Linked DNA regions of Homo sapiens: region 2 is linked to region 1. Evidence: fine-mapped QTL for protein levels in blood plasma. A gene starts in region 1. The other region holds a variant in brackets. All regions are shown on one strand. Distances are between the middles of the regions. Region 1 holds the start of LTBR (lymphotoxin beta receptor). Region 2 has its middle 24 kb from the start of LTBR.

Region 1 (8,000 bases):
GGCCCAAGGCAGGAGCATGGCGGCCACTCGGCCAGGCGGCCAGCAACGTGGGGGCCTGGGAGGAAGGCAGGAGGCCCGACGTCCTGGGCAGCGGTGGCGGCGGCTGCCCGAGCCCAGAGCCTGGGACGGGACTCAGGGCCGATGTGCACCCCAGGGCCGGGAGCGGCCAGGCCGGGCCTCCAGGGCTCCCATGGCGGAGCTCAGGAAGTGGGAGTGGAGCGAGCTGGCCGCGGGGCGGGGACAGGGAGCGCTGGGAGCCAGGCCGGCCTGTCGCAATCGCAGCCCAGGGAAGAGGAACAGGCTTGTCTGCCTCGATGCGGGGCGGGAGGGGCGGCCGGGAAAGCACGTGAGGGCCGCGGGGCCGGAACCGGCCTCCTCCCTTCTTCGGAAGCCCGATCGGGAGAGCGGACTGCGGACAGCCCTGGCCCAGCCGAGGGAAGGGCGGCGGGCCCGGGGTCAGCCCTTGGACAAGCCTCGCAGGGAGAGCAGAGGGAGTTCCAGAGAGCGCAAGGGACAGCTGGGTGCGGGATCTGGAAAGCGAGGGGCCCAGGACGGGCAGTCATGGAGAGGGCAGGGCGCGGGGACTGCAAGGCCGCAGAAGCAGCTCTGAGACCGAGGAGAACCGGCTGGCAGATGCCCGGGTTCCTCCCCCGTTGTCCTGCCCTACTGTGGGAGTTTTTCAGACAAATTACAAGGGACTAGCAAATCAGCCAGCCCCCCACGCTACCAACCCAGCCCAATCCGCACAGGAGTGGGCACAGGTCACCTAGGAGACCCTTGAGAGCTGTGCAGCTTGCCCTGCTCCCTGTCCTCAGGGAACCTCCCTCCCAAAGAGAGGGGGAGGATATGCGGAGGGGAGTCCTGGGGCCAGCAGGCTGGACCTGGGCACTCAGTCCCTCTGCTCTGGCTTCTTTGCCCATGAACCTTCAAACCCCTTAGAACTGGAGAAAGCTGAGAGCCCACGCAGTCCAGCCCCCTCACCTTAAGCATGGAGAGGGAGGCTAAGGGTGATACATAAGGGAACCGGGATTCCAGGGTGGCCTGGTCTCGTTCCTGCCCTGTTTCATCCTCCCATCTCCCTCAACCCAACACCCCACCCACCCGTGGAGTTACTTGCAGCTGCCCCCTTTTACACGTGGTTCTCTGGTCCCCAAGTTTCCGTCTTCCTAACTCCCACCTGTCCTTGAGGCTTCACTGAGGCTCTGGAAGGCAACCTCTGCCCTAGGTTGCACAGTCCCCGTGAAGACTGCCCTCTGTACCTGGCTGTCTTGTTTGCTTCCCACCAGGCTGTGAGTGCCACCATGGCCCAGGCTGAATCTTCAAGTCTGTGTTCCCCATGCTTAGCAGAGTCTGGCACATACCATGTGCCCAATAGGTATTTATGGAATAAATGAGTGATGGCCACATCACAGAGCCAGTCCACCGCAGAGCCAGCTACAATCTGGGTCTCCTGATGTCTAGGTCCCAACTCATTCCAGCAGTCCTGCCAACTCCTTGTGGCTCAGGGATGTCTCCCTTGGGATGAGGGGCTAACCTCTCTTGAGATAGGTCACTTGGGCACTATCCCCCTCCCTGAAGGACTCTGTTCAGCACTCGTCCTTACACTGGTCTGTCTAACTTCAGGTCTGATGTCTGGACAGGTGCAGGTGATGGGAAGTGTGCATGGGGAGGAGAGGTCACAAAAGGGGGAAAGGACCTGCCTAGGCTGTAGGCATTTCACTCTGTGAGGCTCTCTCCCCTCACCTGGTGCAGGCAGCTCACCGTACAGATGGGCCAAAGATGGCTGGAAAGGGCAGAAGTATCAGAACAGCATGCACTGCGCGGGGCTGCTGAGCCTTCCAGGGCCCTAGCGCTGGGGGCTGGGATGAGAGTCCCTGCTGAGCTCTTAAACGCGTAAAGGAATGTGTGTGTAGCGACCCTAGGTCCTTTTTTCTCTCTCTTCTTTTTACTTTTTACTGTGGAAATTCCACATGCAAGATAATATACCAAAAGAGAAAAAGTAATATTGGGAGTCTCCCATATACTCCTTACCCAGCTTCAACTCACTGTCAGTTTCATTTATTCTGTATACCCCCTCCCCCACCAACGCACACACTCTTCAAATCCCTCATTATTATTTTGAAGTAAATCCCAGACATCATATCATTTCATTTGAAAATATTTCAGGATTTTACCCTAAAAGACAGGGACTCTTTCTCTATTCTATTTTTCTTTTTTTCCCCACCCTGTCTTATGCTGCTGAGACCCTTTCTTTTAATAGAGGTGTAACATATAATACAATGAAACCGTAAGGTACACTGATCTTACAGATACAGCTCAGAGAGTCTTCACTTTTGTGTATTCTTGCATATCCCCCAACTGGTCCAGAACACCTCTTCTCTTCTCTTCTTTTCTCTTTTCCTTTCCATACAGAGTCTCGCTTTGTCGCCCAGGCTGGAGTGCAGTGGTGCAATCTCGGCTCACTACAACCTCTGCCTCCCAGGTTCAAACAATTCTCTGCCTCAACCTCCCGAGTAGCTGGGATTACGGGCGCCTGCCACCATGCCTGGCTGATTTTTGTATTTTTAGTAGAGATGGGGTTTCGCCATGTTGACCAGGCTGGTCTTGAACTCCTGATGTTGTGATCCACCCGCCTTGGCCTCCCAAAGTGCTGGGATTACAGGCGTGAGCCACGGCACCCGGCCCCAGAATGTTCCTTGCACTACAAATGTTTGCTACATGCCCTTCCCAGTCAAAGCTTCCTGCTTCACAGGTAACCACTATGTCCAGACCCCTTTTAACCCCAGCTGGCTGGACTGTATGTTTCTTTCTGCTGCCAGCCGTAAGCTGGCGCTTCAGCCCTCATGGACTCTCTACACCCTAAGGAACGAGCCCTGAGATCTGGGTTTTGATCCTGGCCCCATCACTTTATCTCTGTGTGCCTCTTTATTGTGTCAGTCAGCTACTGGTTTGCTTGCAGGTCTGTGGGATGGAGGTGGGATGGGAGGAGTGAAGCAGCCAGGCTATTTCTCTCCTCTCTGCTTTCTGGCTTCACCTGCAGTTGGTTGTCTTCCTTCCTTCCCCACTTCCATAATCCCATCTCCTACCAGTAGTCCACACTATTTAGTTCCTGCCAAATGGCTCTGGAGGCTTCTTGGTCTTTGATGCTACATCACCCTGCCATCTTTCCAGGCCTAGAGATGGTAGCTGCTTCCCGCTCTGCTGTTTTCTGAGCTGCCTCCCATTGTCTTCTCAGCTCCTCCATCACCCATGTACCAGTTAGTTCTCTGTGTTAAACTTCTTCTGTTTGAAAGACTTAGAGTGTTTCTTGTTTCCCAGCTGGATCACGAAAGACAAATCTTACCAATAAATGGCTACTATAATGCCCAGCCATCCCCAGGAGGATAAAGGGAGACTCCAGGGGTGAGAAATCCACAGGTTCACCGCGGGCAGGGCATTGTCTTTACTCCTGTCCTTTTGTGTTTTTCACCAGAGCCTCCTGAGACTGATTTCCACTGGGCAACACCAGACCCAGACCGAGCACCCCAGGACGCCTAGAAGGTGTGTGAGGGTGGGACTCTTCTCCCAGGCCTTCTTCCGAAGGAGCTGCTGAGAGAGCCTTCTTTCCACAGGCCCATTAGGCATCCAGAAAGGGGGCTGATGGAAATGGATTCTTCTTCTTCTTCTTCTTCTTTTTTTTTTTTTTTTGAGACAGAGTCTCAGTCTGTCGCCCAGGCTGGAGTGCAATGGTGCAATCTCAGCTCACTGCAACCTCCGCCTCCCAGGTTCAAGTGATTTTCCTGGCCTCAGCCTCCCAAGTTGAGTAGCTGGGACTACAGGCATGCGCCAACAGGCCCGGCTAATTTTTGTATTTTTAGTAGAGATGGTGTTTTGCCATGTTGGCCACAGGCTGGTTTTGAATTCCTGGTCTCAAGTCATTTCGCCCACCTTAGCCTCCCAAAGTACTGGGATTACAGGCACGAGCCACTGTACCCGGCCAGGAATGGATTCTTCTAAATACTTTTTCTTTCTCTCTTCTTCTCCACTCTGCTCTTAGCTGACTAGTGCTCTTGGAAATGGTCTGGCAAACACCCAGAAGTGCATAACAGATGAGGGTTGTCCTTTTCCAGAGTATTTGCATTTTCAGTGGTGACAATGCCTTAACCCAGTCTTTTCAACGGGGGTGACTTTGCCCCCCAGAAGTCATTTGGCAATATTTGGAGATGTTTTGGTCACAATGACTCAGGAGGTGCTACTAGCATCTAATAGATGGAAGCCAGGGATGCTGCTGAACATCCTGCACAGGATTGTAGATAGGACAGAATCATCCTGTCCCACCACAAAGAATGATACAGCCGAAAATGTCAATAGTGCCAAGGTTGATAAACCCTGTCTTCAATCAAAGTGATAAACTTCTAGTAGTGAACTTCTTTTTTTGTTTTTTTTTTTGTTTTTTTTTTTTTTGAGACAGAGTCTTGCTTTGTCTCCCAGGCTGGAGTGCAGTGGCACGATCTTGGCTCACTCCAAGCTCCACCTCCCCGGTTTTATGCCATTCTCCTGCCTCAGCCTCCCGAGTAGCTGGGACTACAGGCGTGCACCACTTATGCCCAGCTAATTTTTTTTGTAATTTTAGTAGAGACGGGGTTTCACCATGTTAGCCAGGATGGCCTCGATCCCCTGACCTCATGATCCACCCGCCTCGGCCTCCCAAAGTGCTGGGATTACAGGCGTGAGCCACCATGCCCGGCCAACTTCTAGTAGTGAACTTCTAAGTAAACTGCCAGGGGACTAGATGAAGAGTGGCATTTTTCTGGTCCATCATTTTAAATGAAAGAGAAATCTGTACCACATAAGGGCAGCTGAAAGGACTGTTGTCTTCCACAGTGGGCAGCCCCCAGTGTGAAGTGGCTAATTAGCTCCAAGTAGTAAGAATAAAGAGTTGCATTTAACTAAGTAACTGATTCTTATCCTGGAAAGGATAGAAGTGAACAGGGAAAAGTGAAGAAAATTTAGATAAATTAATAGACCACAAATAAATGGGTTGTCAGAGGAAGTTAGGATGTTTGAAGTTTTGCAGATGCTTTTTCGTAGCATATCCCGCTCTGTCAAAGATAAACTAGGAAAGACGCCAGTTCTGCTGTCTTCTGCAGACTGGGTCAGCAAACAGTGACCGCTAGACACTGAGGTCACCAAGATGAATACGCCTGGTCTCTGTCCTTGTGTTGCGGGAAGTCAGGGACCCCAAACGGATGTATACGTACAAACACACATACATCAGGATAATAGTAAATAATAATAATAAATAATAGTAAACAGTGGTAAGTGCAGAGATAGGCTCTCCCTAGGAGGGTGGAGTGATTACTTCCGTCATCTCCTGTCCGCGGAGAACAAGAGGCAGGAAGACCCTTTGCACTCATAACCCTCATCCCATGGCAGCCCCTCTGGTTTCACTTCTCTCCCTGCAGCCGTGCATATTTTATGGCCACACCACAGGGTTAGAGGATAGCTGGTGTTGGGAGGGGAAGGCAGCCCTGGGTTGGCGGGAAGGGCTGGGGCTCTGGGGGAGTCTGGGGGTAGTCCTGGGAAGGCAGGGGGTCCTTCCAAGACAGAGTCTACAAAGCTCTTGACTTCTTATAGAACAAAACTGTACTTCTCTCAAAGTCAGAGAAGGAGAACTGGGCTTGGAAAGGAGTGGCCTGGTTTTCAGTCTGACCCCACCCCTAACTCCTGGGTGACTGTGGCCAAGTCACTTTGCTTCTGTGGGCCTCAGTCCCCTCATGCATGAAGCAGGGGGCTAGATGCAAGGTCAGCTGGAAAAAGTCTTTGTCCATCTGGGTTGCCTTACCCACCCCTTCTTGCCCTTTCATTTTCTCAGGTAAGATCACCGGGGCCCATAGAGGTCAAGTGCCTTTCTCAAAGTCACATAGTTTAAAAGCAAAAATAGGGGCTGAGTATGGTGGCTCACACTTGTAATCCCAGCACTTTGGGAGGCTGAGGCAGGAGGACTGCTTGAGCCTAGGAGTTGGAGGCTGCAGTGAGCCATGATCATGCTGCTGTACTCCAGCCTAGAGGATAGTGCATGATCCTGTCTCTAAGATAAATAAGAAAATAAAAGCAAAAATGGAAGTTGTAGAAACATACCTATAGCATGGTCTCTGTCATAAAAAAGAACTATATATTTTGTTTTTTAAAAATACATGTAAGTTTATAAAGGCACACAAAAAGATATAGACAGATATACAAATTATGGTGGCTCCCCTTTGGGGAGGGAAAGGAAGGGGACTAAGGGAAGCTCTATATACTTCTGTATTGCTGAAAAATTGTACTGTGACAAAAACATATTTGTGTATTATTTGTACACTTTAAAAGATCATCTTTAAAATGGACTTCTGACCAAAGTCCAGGTCTCAGATTTCTATTTTCCTCACAACACCAAGCCTGTTCTAGCCCGCTCCAGGTCTAGAATGCTGCAGCACTAGGCTCGCATTGCCACTCCCATACCCGGCAGGACGTGGCAGGGTCACCACCCTTTGGCTCAGCCCAGACCAGGCATTGCAATTCTTCTCACAGAGCCCTTGATATGAAAACTATTTGCCATGCTGCCTTAAGCTAGTGGTTGGATTTCAGGCATGAGCTGGCAAATAGAAAAGGCAGGGAGGTGCTTTTCAGAACCTTTGAGATCAAACAGCCAGGGTGCTGAGCACCTTATTGCAGGGAGGACCATGCCCAATGTAAGGACCTGGCTCAAGGGAGACTGGAGTTTCTAGGGGTCTCTGGGATATGTGGGGCAGTGGGGACAGTGCAGAGACCTTTTCACAGAGCCAAGGAGATAACCCAGCACCCAGAGAGCAGACGAATCCACGGGCTCTGTGTGGGAGTGAGGGAGGCCTTCCCGGCTTTCACATCCAGGTGCACCTGAGCCCCGATCCCCCATGAGTCTGTCTCAGGAAGTAAATGGCAAAAGCGCTAAGTAGATAGCCCCAGAGGAGGAGGAGAATTCTGAATTCTGTTTATAGCTCTGCTCCTATTTTGTTTTCTAACCTCAGAAAACTGATTTATCCTTGGGAAGGGTCAGTTTCTTCATTAGGACAATGAAGAAAAATCCAGCTGTCCCTTCCAAGGGGAGGTATCATGAGCAGTATCAAGGTAAGCAAGGGAACCTGGTTTGGAATCCTGGTTGACACCGGCTTTCACTTTAAGAAGTCGCAAGAGACTGCCGCAAGAGAGGAAGCCACAGACCAGGTTGGACCCTGAGCCTGGAGTACTGCCTTTTCTCTTCTTTGCCTGCTAAACTCCTTGCTTGTCAAGATTCAGCAGAGATGACACCTTCTCTGGGAAGGCTTCCTGAGTCTCCTGCAGTGAGCCCCTAGGCTCCCCTAGCCCTTGGCTCTTATGTCTTATCTCTGAGAAATCTGAGATCTGCACTTTTGTTAGAAGTCCGTTTTAAAGACAATCTTTTAAAGTGTACAAATAGAAACCTTATCTTATTGTATTGCAGGCCTATCTCCTCCCCCGGTGTGTATCAATGCTCAGGCTGGGCCTTTGTCTGCTGGCTTGTGGAGGGAGGCAGGACAAGCCAGTGACCACATTCCTGCACTCTGGGCTGCCTCCTGTGGGGCCCGTGAGGAAGCGGCAGCCTTCCCTGCCGCGTGCAGGGCCTGGGTTGTGTGGGTGGCTCTCCCGAGTCTCCTCCAGCCCTTTTTGGGTCTGATTCTCTGACCCTCCTCTCTCTCCTTGCTCACCACTTGGCACTCCACTCCTTATCCTTTTGCTGCATTAAGTTTGGAAAGAGATTTTGGAGAAAATATAGCCCATCAACGAATTTCTCCTCCTCCCAGGGCCTGTCTAGGCGTGTGCCATGCCCACCCTCTTCCTTTCCAGCGCTGGCCACATCCTCCCTGCACCTTCAGTGCCTGCTTTCCCTGCCTCTTCCTGGGCTCCGGGTCTGTGTCCACAGTGTCCTGCGTGGCCCTCGCGCTGCCTCTGGTTGCCCACATTCCTGCAACTCTGTGACCACAGCA
Region 2 (8,521 bases), 28 kb before region 1:
AGAAACACTTAGGTATAACAAAATATGTACAAGATCCACATGGGGGATGGGTACAGTGGTTGACTCCTGTAATCCCAGCACTTTGGGTGGCCAAGGTGGATGGATCACCTGAGGTTAGGAGTTCTAGACCAGCCTGACCAATATGGTGAAACTCCACCTATACTAAAAATACAAAAAATAGCCGGGCGTGGTGGCAGGCGCCTGTAATCCCAGCTACTCGGGAGGCTGAGACAGGAGAATTGCTTGAACCCAGGAGGCTGAGCTTGTAGTGAGCAGAGATCGTGCCACCACACTCCAGCCTGGGAGACAGAGTGAGACTCCATCTCAAAAAAAAAAAAAAAATCATCTATATGAGGAAAACTACAAAATTCTGATGAAAGAAATCAAAGAAAATAAATGGAAGGATATTCCATGTTCCTGGAGAAGAAGACTCAATATTGTCAAGATGTCAGTTCTTTCCAACTTGATCTATAGATTCAATGCAATCCCAGTAAAACTCTTAGCAAGCTATTTTATGGATATTGCCAAACTGATTATAGAGTTTATATGGAGAAGCAAAAGATCCAGAATAGCCAACACAATATTGAAGAAGTTCAAGACTAGCCTGGCCAACATATAGTGAAACCCAGTCTCTACTAAAAATACAAAATTAGCCAGGCGTGGTGGTGCACGCCTGTAATCCCAGCTACTTGGGAGGCTGAGGCAGGTGAATCACTTGAACCTGGGAGGCGGAGATTGCCGTGAGCCGAGATCGAGGCATTGCACTCCAGCATGGGCAACAGAGCGAGACTCCATCTTAAAAAAAAAAAAAACATATCTGAACATTTCCTTTCCCTGCTTAAAGTCCTTTAGTGGACTTCTGGTCCAAACTGAAACGATGGCAAGAGTGTTGCTCCCAGCTATGCAACAAGAAAAGAGCTGGAAAAGCTGCACATGAATGACTTTTCTGGATCTCCTAAGAGAATTGAGGTCACAGGGCAGACAACCTGAAACCGAGAGAGAGACAGGTACCTACAGGGGGAAACAGTACCTGAGCATTCCTTACTTAAGTAAGAAAATTAAGCTGGACATTTTTAACAATTAATAGTGGCCTACTGTTGGTGATTAAGAGAGTATGAAGTCCCTGGAAGCTGCAGACAAAGGGAGTCTTGCGCTTTCTTTCAGGCTTTTCTTTCAGGACCCCCATCAATCACCCACAGGAAGATAGGTGAAATGGGAGAATTCTGACACCCTCTGCTCCATGGTGCTTGCTGGGGGTGGGGAACGGAACAGCAGCTATGGCCAAGACTCCATTCCTTTAGGACAAGACTTCATCTGCAAGGGGAAGGTCATAAAAACTTACAGGCAGGCCGGATGCTGTGGCTCATGCCTATAATCCCAGCACTTTGGGAGGCTGAGGTGGGTGGGTCACTTGAAGTCAGGAGTTTGAGACCAGCCTGGCCAACGTGGCGAAACCCCATCTCTACTAAAAATACAAAAATTAGCCAGGTGGTGGGCACCTGTAATCCCAGCTACTTAGGAGGCTGAGGCAGGAGAATCGCTTCAACCCATCACGCAGAGGTTGTAGTGAGCCAACATCGCACCACTGCACTTCAGCCTGGGGGACAGAGTGAGACTCTGTCTCAAAAAAACAGAAAACACAAAACTTATGGGCAGAGGGCATTGGTGGAAACCCACTGAAATTAGGGGAAGGGAACAGGGGAAAAAAGAAGAAGTTCTTCCTTTTAGTGAGGACCGGAATAATTGCCAGGCCAACCATTATACCTGGAGGAAGGGCAATTATGAAGGCCACACTCCCAAGATCCAGGTTCATAGTGCCTACCTAAGGCTGAGCCTCAATCATAACACAAGGGAACACATAACCTCCTTCATAGCCTACCACCACATGACAGGCCTCCAGTGAAAAATAATACAAGAATGTATCTGGGAGAACTTGCAAGAGACAGACTTTATTTAGGGAACAGTGCAAAAGGAAGATACAAATCCAAGAGACAAAAACAAGGCACCACTAGAGGAATTTTAAGCCCCTGATGCACTGAGGATAATAATATATGTTGGTGCAAAAGCAAACTTCAAACCCAGCCCTCCTGACTACATTAATGGAAATCTCTATACTAGAGAAGTAGCAGAAAGAAATGAATGCTTATCTTCAAGAATACAAAATATTTATGTCAGTATCTGTTGTGTTATACAGCATATCCAGCTTTCAATGAAAACCACAAGGTATACAAAAAGGAAAGAAAAAACACAATCTGGACTGGGCATGGTGGCTCACACCTGTAGTCTCAGTACTTAGGGAGGCCAAGGCAGGCGGATGACGAGGTCAGGAGTTCAAGATCAGCCTGGCCAGTATGGTGAAACCCCTCTCTACAAATACAAAAATTAGCTAGGCATGGTAGCGCATGCCTGTCAACCCAGCTACTGGGGAGGCTGAGGCAGGAGAATTGCTTGAACCCAGGAAGCAGAGGTTGCAATGAACAGAGATCATGCCACTGCACTCCAACCTGGGTGACAGAGCAATACTCCGTTTCAAAAAAAAGAAAAAGACACAATCTAAAAAGACAAAAAAAAAAAATCAGAACCAGACTCAGATATGACATCAGACATGGAATTTAAAGTAACATGATTATGTTAAAGGATTTAATGGAAAAGGTAGACAACATGCCAAAAGAAGATGGATAAATTCAGCAGAGGAAACCATAAGAATAAAATGGAAATGCTTGAAATAAAATCGTGGTGACAGAAATGAAGAACACCTTTGACTGGTTCATCAGTAGACTCAGTATAGCTGAGAAAAGAATCAGTGACCTTGGGTGTAGAGGTCAATAGAAATTTCCCAAACTCCCTTTCCAACTTGGACATGGCAGAATGGCTCCCACAAAGAAGGGTGGCGAGAAGAAAAAGGGCCGTTCTGCCATCAACGAAGTGGTGACCCGAGAATACACCATCAACATTCACAAGCGCATTTGTGGAGTAGGCTTCAAGAAGCGTGCCCCTCGGGCACTCAAAGAGATTCGGAAATTTGCCATGAAGGAGATGGAAACTCCAGATGTGCGCATTGATACCAGGCTCAACAAAGCTGTCTGGGCCAAAGGAATAAGGAATGTCCGACACCGAATCCATGTGCGGCTGTCCAGAAAACGTAATGAGGATGAAGATTCACAAATAAGCTCTATACTTTGGTTACCTATGTATTTGCTACCACTTTCAAAAATCTACAGACAGTCAATGTGGATGAGAACTAATCGCTGATAGTCAAATACATCAAATAAAGTTATAAAATTGCAAAAAAATAAAGAGGAATTACCCAAACTGAAGTGCAAAAAAAGAGTGGGTAAAAAACAAAACAGAACAACAACAAAAAAGAAAGAAAGAAGACACCATCCAAGAATACCAAATGAGTTAACATGCCCATAATTGGAATTCCAGAAGGAGAAGAAAGACTTGGACAGGATTTGTCTAATCAGACTTAGTTAAACAAACAAACAAACGAACAAAAAGAATAAGACAGGAGAAACATTTGAAGAGATAATGGCTTAGAATTATCCAAAATTAGTAACAGACAGAAAAGCACAGATCAAGGAAGCTCAGAGAACACCAAGCAGGATAAATACCAAAACAACACAGCCCCTCACCAAACCCATGCATCTAGGCATATCATATTAAAACTGCTGAAAACCAAAGAGAAAGAAAATCTGGAAGTCAGCCAAGGGGGAAAAAACATAATATCTTACCGAGGAGCGAGGATAAGAATTACAGCAGACTGCTAGTCAGAAACAATAAAAGCAAAATGAAATGGAGTAATATCTTTTTTTTTTTTTTTTTTGAGATGGAGTCTCGCTCCATCACTCAGGCTG[G/A]AGTGCAGTGGCATGATCTTGGCTCACTGCAACCTCCGCCTCCCGGGTTCAAGTGATTCTCCTGCCTCAGCTAGGTGCCTGCCATCATACCCAGCTAATTTTTGTATTTTTAGTAGAGACGGGTTTTCGCCATGTTGGCCAGGCTAGTCTCAAACTCCTGACTTCAGGTGATCCACCAACCTTGGCCTCCCAAAGTGCTAGGATTACAGGCGTGAGCCACTGTGCCTGGCCCAAATTAAGAGTTTTCTATTTTTATTTTTATTTTTTTAGAGACGGGGTCTCACTACGTTTCCCAGGATGGTCTGAAACTCCTGGACTCCAGTGATCCTCCCACCTCAGCCTCCCAAAATGCTGGGATTACAAGCATTAGCAACTACACCAGGCCAAAATTAAAAGTTTATCAGACAAACAGAAACTGAGGAAGTTGATTGCCAGCAGACCTACTTTATAATAAATGTCAAAGCAAGTTCTCTAAGAAGAAGAGGCTGGGTGTGGTGGCTCACGCCTGTAATCCCAGCACTTTGGGGGGCCAAGGCGGGTGATCACTTGAGGTCAGGAGTTTGAGACCAGCCTGGCCAACATGGTGAAACCCTGTCTCTACTAAAAACACAAAAATTATCTGGGCGTGGTGGTGGGCGCCTGTAGTCCCAGCTACTCAAGTGGCTGAGGCAGGAGAATTGCTTGAACCCGGGAGGCGGAGGTCGCAGGGAGCCGAGATTGTGTCAGCCTGGGTTGAACAGAGTGAAACTTCGTCTCAAAAAAGAAAGAAGAAGAAGAAATATAATCAAAATCTTGGATCTATACAAAGAAACAACGTACTGTAGTTTATAGAATACCATTTACAATAGCAGCCCCCATGAAGTTTTTAGGTATAAATATAACAAAATACGTGGGAGATATGTGTGCTAAAAACTACAAAATACTGACGAAAGAAATCAACATGGGGCCGGGCATGGTGGCTCCTGCCTGTAATCCCAGCACTTTGGGAGGCCGAGGCGGGCGGATCACTTGCGGTCAGGAGTTCAAGACCAGTCTGGCCAACATGGTGAAACCCCGTCTCTACTAAAAATACAAAAATTAGCCCAGTGTGTTGGCACACGCCTGTAATCCCAGCTACTTGGGAGGCTGAAGCAAGAGAATTGCTTGACCCCAGGAGGCGGAGGAGGCGGTGAGCCAAGACTGCACCACTGCACTCCAGCCTGGGCGATGGAGATTCCGTCTCAAGAAATAAATAAATAAATAAATAAATAAATAAATAAATAAAAGAGAAAGAAAGAAAAGAAAAACTGAATGCTACAAGTTCAGCCCATTACTAACCAGTTCCAGACAAATTGGCTTTTTTCTTTTTTCTTCTTATTTTCCTCTGGCTTTTCCCCTCATTTTAAAAATGGAGAGGTAATCGTGCCTCTCATGAGCGAATAGTTTTAGTATGCTTAGAACACTGTCCTGTACATAGTAAGCATTCAACATATGTTGGCTAATACTACTGAAGCCAATTGTAACAGTAGTATTAGAAGCCGTAATAATATTACCCCAGTCAAATATGTCCATAATTGGCAATAGGGAAAGAATTGCTGCCACTCAGCAGTATTTGGAGTATTGAATGTCATTGTTTACTTTTTCTGGAAGGAGCGTGACCTAAGACACTGATCTAAACTGAATGTGCATGGCTAATGGTGTGGATAGACAGAGATTTTAAGTGGGCAAAAGTGAAGGTTGTGTTGACAAGAAGTTTCAGGAAACAGTGATGTGGATGAATTTCCCAGAACGGTCCCAGAATATGAGAATAATGTCCCACGTGAATGCTAATCGAAATTCCCACTCTTCAGAGGAGGCTATCAGCAATCAGGTACACATCAACCATATGGCTGTCATGTAGTCTCTTCGTATCACCCCACTTACTGCCCAAGTGATTTATTTGTAAACAATGTGGCCAGCGTGGTGGCTCACGCCTATAATGCCAGCACTTTGGGAGGCCGAGGTGGGTGGATCATCTGAGGTCAGGAGTTTGAGACCAGCCTGGCCAACATGGTGAAACCCCATCTCTACTAAGAATACAAATATTAGCCGGGCCTGGTGGCGGGTGACTGCAATCCCAGCTACTCGGGAGGCTGAGGCAGGAGAATCACTTGAACCTGGGAGGTGGAGGTTGTAGTGAGCTGAGATCACGCCATTGCACTCCAGCCTGGGTGACGGAGTGAGACTCTATCTCAAAAAAAAAAAAAAAAAATGTGACTAGGGTGGCAGGCAGTGGTAGAGGTTATACTTGAGCTCTATAGTATAGACTTAGCTCACCAAGGCTGACCTCTGGATGCTGATGCTGCTAAGTGTCCCATATGTCAGGGGAAGTATTCTTGTATTCTTGCAAGTATTTTGTCATGGATGGGGCAGGGATTTGTCTTCACTGAGATAAACACTTACTCTAGATTTGGATATGCTTCACTTACATGCTATTGCTAGCAGGACCATCAATGAACTTACTGAACACTTCATACCTCATATCTCACAACGTCTTTTTGGACCCATTTCTATAAGTTATACAAAAAGGGTAAGGTAATGCATGGATGACCATGGGACTCAGTAGTTCTAATGTGTACCACATTCCTTATAAGTAGAAATCTCAATTTTTGGAAGCCTCAGTTAAAGTGGCATGTAGTCATTTTGCACCCTCTTGGAGTACTGTTCAATTTTCGACATTGTATATGTGCTTAATAGTGACTAAGAATAGGCATAATTTCTTCTGTAGCCAAAATGCATTGGTTAAAGAAAGGAGAGGTAGGAGTGGAGTGGTGCCTCTCCTATTACACTTAACAGCCAACTCGAGAAAGTTATGCTTTTCATGTTTGCAACTCAGGGCTCTCTGCTGCCTTGAGTTGTTTTAGAACTCCTTGTTTTAGAAAAGGAGGAGTACATGCTGCCACCAGTCGTCACGGAGATGCCTCTGTTTATCGATTTACTAAAAAGGATTTATTTTTGTATGACGTTTAAAGCAGTTTAAATTACATTCATTTGCTGACTTAGAGAACTGTGGGAAGTCTTGACTTATGGGAGTTGGGCTTTTGGACTTCTCCTCTGTTTGCCAGTTTTCTTTTTGTTTCTGTCTCCCCTTTTCTTTCCCCCGTCTGTCTTGGGCTATCTCTTTTTAGGCGCATAGGCAAGGAGCTGTGACCGACAATTTGAATGTTTTTAAAAATACTCTCATAAAAAACACACCTTTGGCCGGGCGCGGTGGCTCACGCCTGTAATCCCAGCACTTTGGCAGGCTGAGGCAGGCGGATCACAGGAGGTCAGGAGTTTGAGACCAGCCTGGCCAACATGGTGAAACCCGGTCTTTACTAAAAATACAAAAATTAGCAGGGCGTGGTGGAGCGCGCCTGTAGTCCCAGCTACTCGGGAGGCTGGGGCAGGAGAATTGCTTGAATCTGGGAGGTGGAGGATGCAGTGAGCCGAGATTGCGCCATTGCACTCCAGCCTGGGAGACAGAGTGAGACTCTGTCTCAAAAAAAAAGAAAACAAAACATTTTTTTCTGCAATACTTTTCAAAGAATGGTTTAAAAGCAATGACAATCCATGATCAGTGAGAATTTTCACTCAGATTATGGTCTCTCAATTCCTTTTTCAAAGAGCAGACAGGCTACTTGGAGACTTGGGTAAATTTATGGATTATAATAGATTTAAGAGGAACAGCCATCAGATGCCATATTTGGAGCTGGTGGGACCTCATTCAGACAAAATCAGTATAAAAAATATTTCAGACAATTCAGGATTTCCTTTCTTTAAGGGCTAGGTATTGGATAATGTTATAAGTCATTTTTAAAATTTTCTTAGGTGTGAAATCTTAGTGTATTTTCTCTATATTCATATCTGTTAGGATGTTTGTGAAAATATTCATGATTAAAATCACATTTTTGAGATTTCATGTTTGGGATATTTTTTAGACTCCCTCATCCACCATTGTGGGTGCAGATAATGAAACAAAATGGCAAGTTGTTGGTAATTTTTGAAGCACGTGTGACGAGCCCTGGGAAGTGCAGTATTCTCTATATTTTTGTGTCTACTTCAGTATGTCCATGACCACTCCCTTTCCCCTCCAAAAAAAAGTTAAAATTTAAAAAAAGCTGGCTAAATTAAAAAAAAGAAAAGAAAAAGGAAATCAACAAAGATATAAATAAATGATTAGGTGTAGGCTGGGTGGGGGCTGGGTGTGGGCTGGGTGTGGGCTGGGTGCACCTGTAATCCCAGTGCTTTGGGAGGTTGAGGCAGGGGGATCACTTGAGGCCAGAAGTTCGAGACCAGCTTGGACGACACAGAAAGACGCAGTCTCTACACAAAATAAAAAATTACTCAGGCATGGTGGCATGTGCCTGTACTCTCGGCTACTTAGGAGACTGAGGTGGGAAGATCACTTGAGCACAGGAGTTCAAGGTTGCAGTGAGCTATGATTGCACCACTGCACTCTAGCCTGCACTCTAGTCTGGGTGACAGAGTGATACCTCGCCTCAAAAAAAAAAAAAAAAAGGTATAAATAAATAGAAAGATATACTGTATTCATAGATTAGAAAATTCAATATTGTAAATATGTTAATTCTCCCCAGTTTGATCTATAGATTCAATGCATTATCAATCAAAATCATAGGAAGCTTTTTTTTGATAGAAATTGACAA

What was found. A credible set is the group of variants that fine-mapping cannot tell apart. PIP is the chance, under the fine-mapping model, that this variant and not a neighbour inherited with it causes the effect. Protein levels are from antibody-based Olink assays in UK Biobank. Linkage for the fine-mapping came from a reference panel and not from the study's own genotypes, which makes the PIPs less certain.
Region 2: its variant is the best candidate, but not a certain one, in a credible set for the plasma level of the LTBR protein (UK Biobank, PIP 0.84).

What each region holds. Positions count from the first base shown.
Region 1 is chr12:6,376,377-6,384,376 of GRCh38, reverse strand. It overlaps LTBR (lymphotoxin beta receptor), which reads right to left and starts at 215. Exons shown (of 10, transcript NM_002342.3): 1 at 1-215. The coding sequence starts at 18. It also overlaps a transcript of SCNN1A not described here. RefSeq lists enhancers at 297-1,162, 7,382-7,986.
Region 2 is chr12:6,404,361-6,412,881 of GRCh38, reverse strand. It overlaps the pseudogene RPL31P10. Among named protein-coding and RNA genes, the nearest start is that of LTBR, 24 kb to the right of the region's middle. The variant G/A (reference allele first, on the strand shown) is at 3,858.